Homo sapiens: one gene and its partner. The protein of the gene in region 2 purifies or fractionates together with the protein of the main gene of each other region. This does not show direct contact. Each region holds a gene or a part of one and is shown on either strand. Other genes may lie near its edges.

Evidence for each region.
Region 1: the proteins of SDC2 (region 2) and CAMKV purify together in Homo sapiens (affinity purification with mass spectrometry; 4 studies listed by BioGRID and IntAct, with this or other methods). This does not show direct contact.

What each region holds. Positions count from the first base shown.
Region 1 is NC_000003.12:49,863,248-49,866,990, forward strand, and holds part of CAMKV (caM kinase-like vesicle-associated protein), read right to left. Parts: intron 414-3,743; exon of another isoform or gene 128-413; intron 1-127. UniProt on the Homo sapiens protein: Does not appear to have detectable kinase activity.
Region 2 is NC_000008.11:96,591,280-96,595,022, forward strand, and holds part of SDC2 (syndecan-2 precursor), read left to right. Parts: intron 1-2,200; coding exon 2,201-2,312; intron 2,313-3,743. UniProt on the Homo sapiens protein: Cell surface proteoglycan which regulates dendritic arbor morphogenesis.

The DNA of each region.
Region 1 (3,743 bases), on a different chromosome or scaffold from region 2:
AATAAGCAGAGTCAGATAATGGTCCCTTCTAAGAGAAAAGGAGGGGTTATGATTGATTCAGGACACATGGGGGGATTCTGGAAGACCTATTTCTTTTCTTTTCTTTTCTTTCTTTCTTTCTTTTTTTAGAGACAAGTCTCACTATGTTGCCCAGGCTGGAGTGCAGTGGCTATTCATGGGCACAAGCCCACTACTGATCAGCACAGGAGTTTTGACCTGCTTCGTCTCTGACCTTGGTTGCTTCACCCCTCCTTTAGGCAACCTGATGAGCTCTAGCTCCCAGGAAGTCACCATACTAATGCCAAACTTAGTGTAGACACCCAACTGGCATAGCGCACTGCAGCCCAGAGCTCCTGAACTCAAACGATCCTCCCACCGCAGCTGGGATTACAGGCACCCGCACCATGCCCAGCTGTTCTGTCACCCAGGCTGGAATGCAGTGGCACCCAGGCTGGAATGCAGTGGAATGATCACAGCTCATTCCAGCCTCAACCTCCTGGGCTCAAGCGATCCTCCCACCTCAGCCTCCTGAGTAGCTAGGACTGGACCATAGGTGCACACCACCACAACTGGCTAATTTTTAAAAATTTTTTTGTAGATACAGGATTTCATTACGTTGCCCAGGCTGTTCTTGAACTCCTGGGCTCAAGTGATCCTCCCACCTCAGCTTCCCAAAGTGCTGGGATTACAGGCATGAGCCACCATACCTGGCTTGGGTAAATTTTTTAAAGTTTACATACTGATGTACCCTCACAAACTCTTTTCTGGAAGAATACTGAAGGAAATAAGAGTTCTCTCCTGGGCAAAGAATTGGATGTCAAAAAGGCAGACATATCTTTTGTTTACTAATTTTCTGTGCGAATTTTTACTATTTTACTATAATGACTTCGATGAATTTAGTAAATACTGCACTCAGGCACAGTGCTTGGGGGATTCCTCAGAGGGATAATCTGGGTGGAGAGGCAAGGTAAAGCTTTGGAGGCAGCATTAGGACTCAGTAGGAAAAGATTTGCCAGGAGGTATGCAGGTGTACTGGTCAGGAAGAGCAAAACAAGCCTGATCCTGGTCCCAGCTTTCGGCTCTGCATATGCATTCATGCCCACTGGGGCCCACAGGGGACCTGGGCTGTCAGGTCCAGGTGCAAGGCCCCCAAACAGAACAGATATAGCTGGCTCAGTGAGCGCTAGGCACTCTTTCCACCTGGGGCACGGTGTCCCACAGGTCTGCAATCCTGCCAATTACAGCCCAATCCTCATCTGTAGTGCTAGGGGGGCTGACTCCAGTGTCCAAAGGAAAAGGCACTCATAGCCCATGCTCAAAGCTGGGGGTGGGGGGTTACTGACTAGACCTTCACAGATCTGACGCCAGGGTGTGCCTCCATAATACCCGGTCAGTGTGACACTGGGGCTACAGCAAGCTCTGCACTGAGGCTGCGCTGAAATTGCTCTGCCTCTGCTGACTGTGCATGTTTTCCCTCCATGCCAATTAGCACTTGCTGTGTGCAGGGCCTGAGCTAGGGCCTGGGGGTACCTAGATGCTCCCCGACCTGAAGGCACTCACAGCCTCAAGGTAGTGGAGAAGGGAGGAGGCAAAGGAGGCAGCTTGGCAAGATGAACTCTGCCAGCCAAAGTCAAAGACCAGGACCCAAACGAGCCCCATAGCCAACCCTGGCTGCTACTTGCTTCCTCCCAGGCAGAAGCCAGCCACCAGGCTGTGATTCCCAGGAGTCACAGCCCTGGAAATTCTCCCTCAGATTTGCCTTCAGCATTAGGGAACAAACTCTATCATTCCTTCATCTGGGTTGCTTGGGCTCAGGGAATACAAATGCATTTCATCAGCATTATTCCAGACAGGGTTTAAGCCATCTTGCGAGGCACAGCAGAGACAAAGGAGAGGCTTTGAAGATCGTCACTGACTGCATGTCTGCCACCATGGGCACAACCCTGCACTCCTCCACTGGGGAGAAGCATGTGGCCAGAATCCCATCCTCACAGCTGAGAGCAGAGGCATAGCCAGTTACCATTGCCGGCTACACATTTTCACACCATAACAGCTGCAGGAGGGGGCCTGCAACAGTCATCTCAGTCTGAGGGCCGTGTACTGGGCAGGAGGATGGTACCTTAGCCTGCAGTCTCCCAAGAAGGCTGGGAGGGACCTGTGCCCTGGCTCTGTTGCTTTGCTTACACCATTCCCTCTGGCAAGAGTGCCCTTCCCCCAAAAGCCTCCCGTCAGATTCCTATTTGTCACGGCAGAGTTATTTATAACATTAAAAAAAATTCAGCAACTACCTAAATGTCCAACAACAGGTGACTCGCCAGCTCAACTGTGTCCACTCAATGGTAGGAAGTGTGGGCACTGGCAAGAGCTCTGCCCACCTTGGCTTTCCTGTGGAGCAGCTGCCACATGAGCGAGGTGCTGAGAGCAGAACTGAATCTCTTCTTTCATTGTGATTTCTGACATTATAAGGTGGTTTGTGCAACACATTGTCCAAAACAATCCTGATGCTCGAAGGCCAGACTCAAAATGGCCCTTTTCTGAGATACCTTCCACAACCTCCATGCCCCACCCCCCACCCCACTCCAACAGCTCCCAGCTTTGCCAGTGTGGCGTGGGTGGGAGGTTTTGTGCATGCCTGTCCTTGATCCTGGCCCCAGCTTTCGGCTCTGCATATGCATTCGTGCCCACTGAGGTCCAGGGCTGGTCATGGGGGTCTGTCCCATGAAAGGCACAGAAAACTGGGCCTCCACCCCGTAATGTCAGCCTGGAGCCATGTCCTGAAGCCTCAAGGCTGAGATGGGAACAGATCTGTCTCCCCTGCCCCCTACTATGGCTGCCCAAATTTCAGCCAGTCACTCCTCCTCCTCCTCCTCCTCACCAGTCTAAGTATACTGGCTTGGGGCCCTGGACTTGGCCCCAGGGCAAAGAGAGGAGAAAGAGGGGCCTGGCTTTCAATTAGCACCTTGGTTCCCTCTGCCCACACCCACTCCACCATCTGCTATCCACTGTTGCTCCCTGGGAGGTTTCGGGTGTGTGCACCAAGCCCTGGGCACCTGCTTGCAACAAAGGAGACCTGGGAGGAACAGCCAAGGGACAGCTCTCAGAAAGAGAGGAGGCCAAGTGGAAGGGGTTTGTATTTTTCACCCCCATGGCCCAGACCCAACACCCAACAATGGAGAGCTCTCCTCTCAGCAACACAGGATCTGAGCTCTTCCTCAGGTACACTTAGGCCATGGAAGGGCATGGGAGCTCCACAACAGCCATTTCCCTGGAGACATGGCTCCCTCCACTCTCTGCAGAGGAACTGAACAGTATGCACTACCGGCTGCCCAGAGGGAGCTTGTGGGGAGTGCAGGCCCTGGTGCGGCCATTGCCCTCCAGCTGGCTCTCATGGAGCCTGAGAGCCAAGCACTCCCCAGTTATGGCCTGCTCCCAGGGCCTGACCACTGGACTCAGGGAATTGAGCCTCCAGCAATCCTGAGGGGTCCTCTGTTGGTGCCCTGGTGATAAATGGTCCCCCAGGGACTCTGCTGCATCTTTAGGTAAGTCTGGCCCAGGGAAAGCCCAAACGGGACAAAGGCCAAGAGGTCCGGAGGCCCCACATTGGGGTCCTGTCCCCTCCTCCGCTGAGATCATCCTGGTTCAGGCCCTACCTTTCATAGACATAAACAGAGTTTCCTGCTACCTTGGTCCCCTGCCACGTGGGGCTCCAGAGCTTGCAGTAAATCTAGGGAGGCCAGGAGGGG
Region 2 (3,743 bases):
ATTTTGCTTACTTTTAAGACTGTAGGTTACTTAAATAGATGCAATGCAAGCTATAGGAGGTTTGGGGCAGATGGTCTCCTAGGCTTAAAATGGAGAGATTTTAAACTACGAGGATCCTGGAGGTCTTGTGACATGTAACTCTGAAACCTCAGTCCAAGGCCAATTTGGTTTAAGTAATCTCAGTCAAATATTTATTTTGTGGCCATGCATTTTGAGAGGGACAGAGAACACAGGTCATTCAAAACATGCCTTCAATGAGTTGTACTCTGCTGAGGGGCAAGAAAAATGCACATGAAACAATGAAAAGTAACAGTGAGGGTTTATGTCTTAAACTGTTCATATGCTACAAAATCCTAAAATAGTACTTTATAATTAGGAGGTGTATAAGGAGTGGAGAAGTCACAGCCTGTTTCATAGTAGCCAGGATTTGAGAGAAGAAACCAGGAGGTCCTCCAGGGGAAGTAAATGGGACAAAGTTTAAGACAAGCAGGACGGAGAATGGCTTTTTCATGGGAGCACGAATGGTGGTTCAACCCAAGCGGTGTTTACTGAGCATCTACTATATGCCAGGCACTGTGACTGGGGGAGGGAAGCCTTGCCTTTAAAGGAGCTGAGAGCCTAAGAGGAGGCAGTTGATGATAGAGCTGTAGAACACAGGGCTCCTGACACAGTTCACAAGCTTTGGGAATTACAATCTGGAATGGTGATAGCCTTGGAAACCAGTGAAACAGGGTGGCGTCAGATTGCAGAGTTAAGCTCTGACCATTCTACTAGAAAAGTTGCAGCACACTCTTGGCTCAGGGTGGTCCAGGCCACTGGAACACCAGTCCCTAAGGTTTCAGTTCTCAGAATCCACCAGTGTGATAGCTCAAACAAAATAGATTCCCATGCTTTGCTTTCAGTTGGCACTGAGGCCTGGTGGAGAATGTGGGCTCAGGTTTAAAGTGCTTTAGCCTTGCTAGCCAGCTGCTGAAACCTGAGAAAATAAAGTGGTACTGTTACAGAGGGTTGGACCTGTCCTCTTAGGAAGGTTCCAATCACAGCGACTGCTGGAAGAGAAAATTTTATTTTAAGATTAAATCTAATGAAAGCCAGTGTAGTAAGGGAAACATTATTTTATAATTTCTGTTAAGAGCAAACATTCTATATGATTTTTAAAAATAGAGCAATAATGAGTGTTGCCTGTTTCCAAACAAGCGTTGTTTAAAAGCTGCCTGTCTGCTTTATTATTTTTTTCCTGGGCTTTTGCGAGATAATGGTAGTAAAATATCAATTTACTAAAACCATTTTTTAAAGTCTTATACCTCTACTCTGTCTCCAGTTCATGCAAGTTCTTCTTTTGGCAGGATTAGGTTGAATTTTAATACTAAACTCTTACTGAAGAGTTAAGAAGCTGTGGAACTGGTATACTTAGTGACTGATCCCTCTCCATATTAAGCGTGTGATTTGCTATTACCAGTTGCCAGTAATAGAAAAAGAATGTGCTCGTGTGGGTTTATCTGTATTTGTCATTAAGGCTTTGCTAAGCCAATGAGCCCTAGAAGCAGGCGTGCAGTGGGCTTTCTCCCTGTCAGGTGAGCCTCACGGGCGCTGCTCCTCTCCGGGCACTGTGGCTGGCCTCAGCACAGGTCTGGGCTGGGGTAGAAAGGCCTGCATGGCCTGAGGACCCAGGTGACTGGGGATCTCTCATCTGTAGCGGTAAAGTTCTGAGTATTGCCAGGCCTGCAAGCACTGGTAGGATTTGATGGATCCCTGGGTGATTATTTAGCCTAAGCTAAGCCGTAATACCTTTGCATACATCCCCAAGAAAGTCCTAAGTGTTTTGTTCCCTTTCCAGTAAGGGAGTGACAAAGAGAATGCCCAAGATGGCTTATAACTAGCATTGGGATGGCTGAAAGTCAGGTAAGTTTAGTGGAATGCAACAAAATAAGCCCAAGATAGGAGTTTAGATCTCCGAAATGTTTTCATTCTACTGGTTTAAGCTGTGTAGGCTTCCCTTGCAGGTTATTAGTCCGTGCTCACCTCTCAAATTGCTGTTAAGTTGTCAGGGTGCCTGAGGAAGACTGTGGCCAGAGATGTGGATTCAGACTACTGTGGGAGTGGGAGGGGTAGTCACTGCAGTATGTACCTGAACAATCAGATATACAAGTGTGTTTCTTAATCTCTCAACATCCTGACTCCCTTGTCTTTCCTTTCTCAGAGAGCAGAGCTGACATCTGATAAAGACATGTACCTTGACAACAGCTCCATTGAAGAAGCTTCAGGAGTGTATCCTATTGATGACGATGACTACGCTTCTGCGTCTGGCTCGGGTAAGGTGGCTGCTTCTAAACACTGGACCTCATTCTCCAGGCATGCACGCACACACATTTTACTGTGCTTACTTCAAGGAGACAGGCAGGATGCACAGTGGTTAAGGGCACCGTCTTTGGAATCAAAGGGCCTGGGTGCTAATTCTAGCTCTCTCTGCCACTTACGCTGTGAGATCTTGAGAATTTATTTGCTGAGCCTCAGTTTCCTCCTTTATAAAATGGAAAGTAACAATAGTCCTTACCATAGAGTTGTTGTGAGGATTAAAAGGGAGTTGACACATCTAAAGCTCTTAGATTTGGGGGCTTGGCACATAGTGCTCTGTCAACATTAGCTTTTAATCGTATTAAGACTTTCAGAGTGATGTCATGGAAACCACCCTTCAAGAAATCCCTCAAACACTGGTTTCATAAAACCACCTACCCTATGTTAAAAATTGTAGATGAGACCAAGAAGTTAATACGTTTTTATTCCTAGGGTATTGTAGGAGGAAAATGCAGCAGCCAAGTAAAATGATTATGTAGTGACATGATCAGATTCCTTAGTATATTATTCCTTAATAGTTATCTGTTACCACTCTAAGGCTACATAATAAACCACCCCAAAACTTGGTGGCTTAAAGTAACAGTCATTCATTTAACTTATTATTCTGTAGGTTGGTGATGTAGGCTGGGCTGGCTGGGCTCCCTCACATGTCAGTGGTCAGCTGCCGGTTGAGTGTACAGCTTTAGGTTGGGTTTGCAGCTTTCGGGTACTCATATCCCTGGGGCAGCTGAGCAGACTTGGGTTCTGTTCGTGTGGTCTCTCATTCTCCAGTAGGCAAGCTATTTTTTCACAGTAACAGCAAGTAGAAGTGTGCAAAGCCTCTTGCAGCCAGGCCTTAGAACTGGGCACAGCATCACTTTTACTACATTTTACTGGTTGAAGCAAGTCAGAAGGCCAGAACAGACTCCACCTCTTAGTGAAAGGATTCATAAAGTCACATTTACAGAGGATATGTATACACGGAGGATTAAGGGATTCTGGTCACATTTACAATCTACCATAATTGATGAATATTTCCCCTGTTCTCAGAATGGCCCCTGTATGAGTTCATTCTCACCCTGCTAACAACACAGGGACTGGGTAATTTATAAAAGAAAAGAGGTTTAGTTGACTCACAGTTCAGCATGCCTGGGGAGGTCTCAGGAAACTTACAGTCATGGCAGAAGGGGAAACAAACATGTACTTCTTCACATGGTGGCAGCAGGGAGAAGTATGAGTGAAGAGGGGATAAGCCCCTTATGAAACCATCAGATCTCATGAGAACTCACTGTCATGAGAACAGCATGAGGGTAACTACTCCCATGAGTCAGTGATCTCCCACCAGCTCCCTCCCATGACATGTGGGGATTATGGGAACTACAATTTAAGATGAGATTTGGGTGGGGACA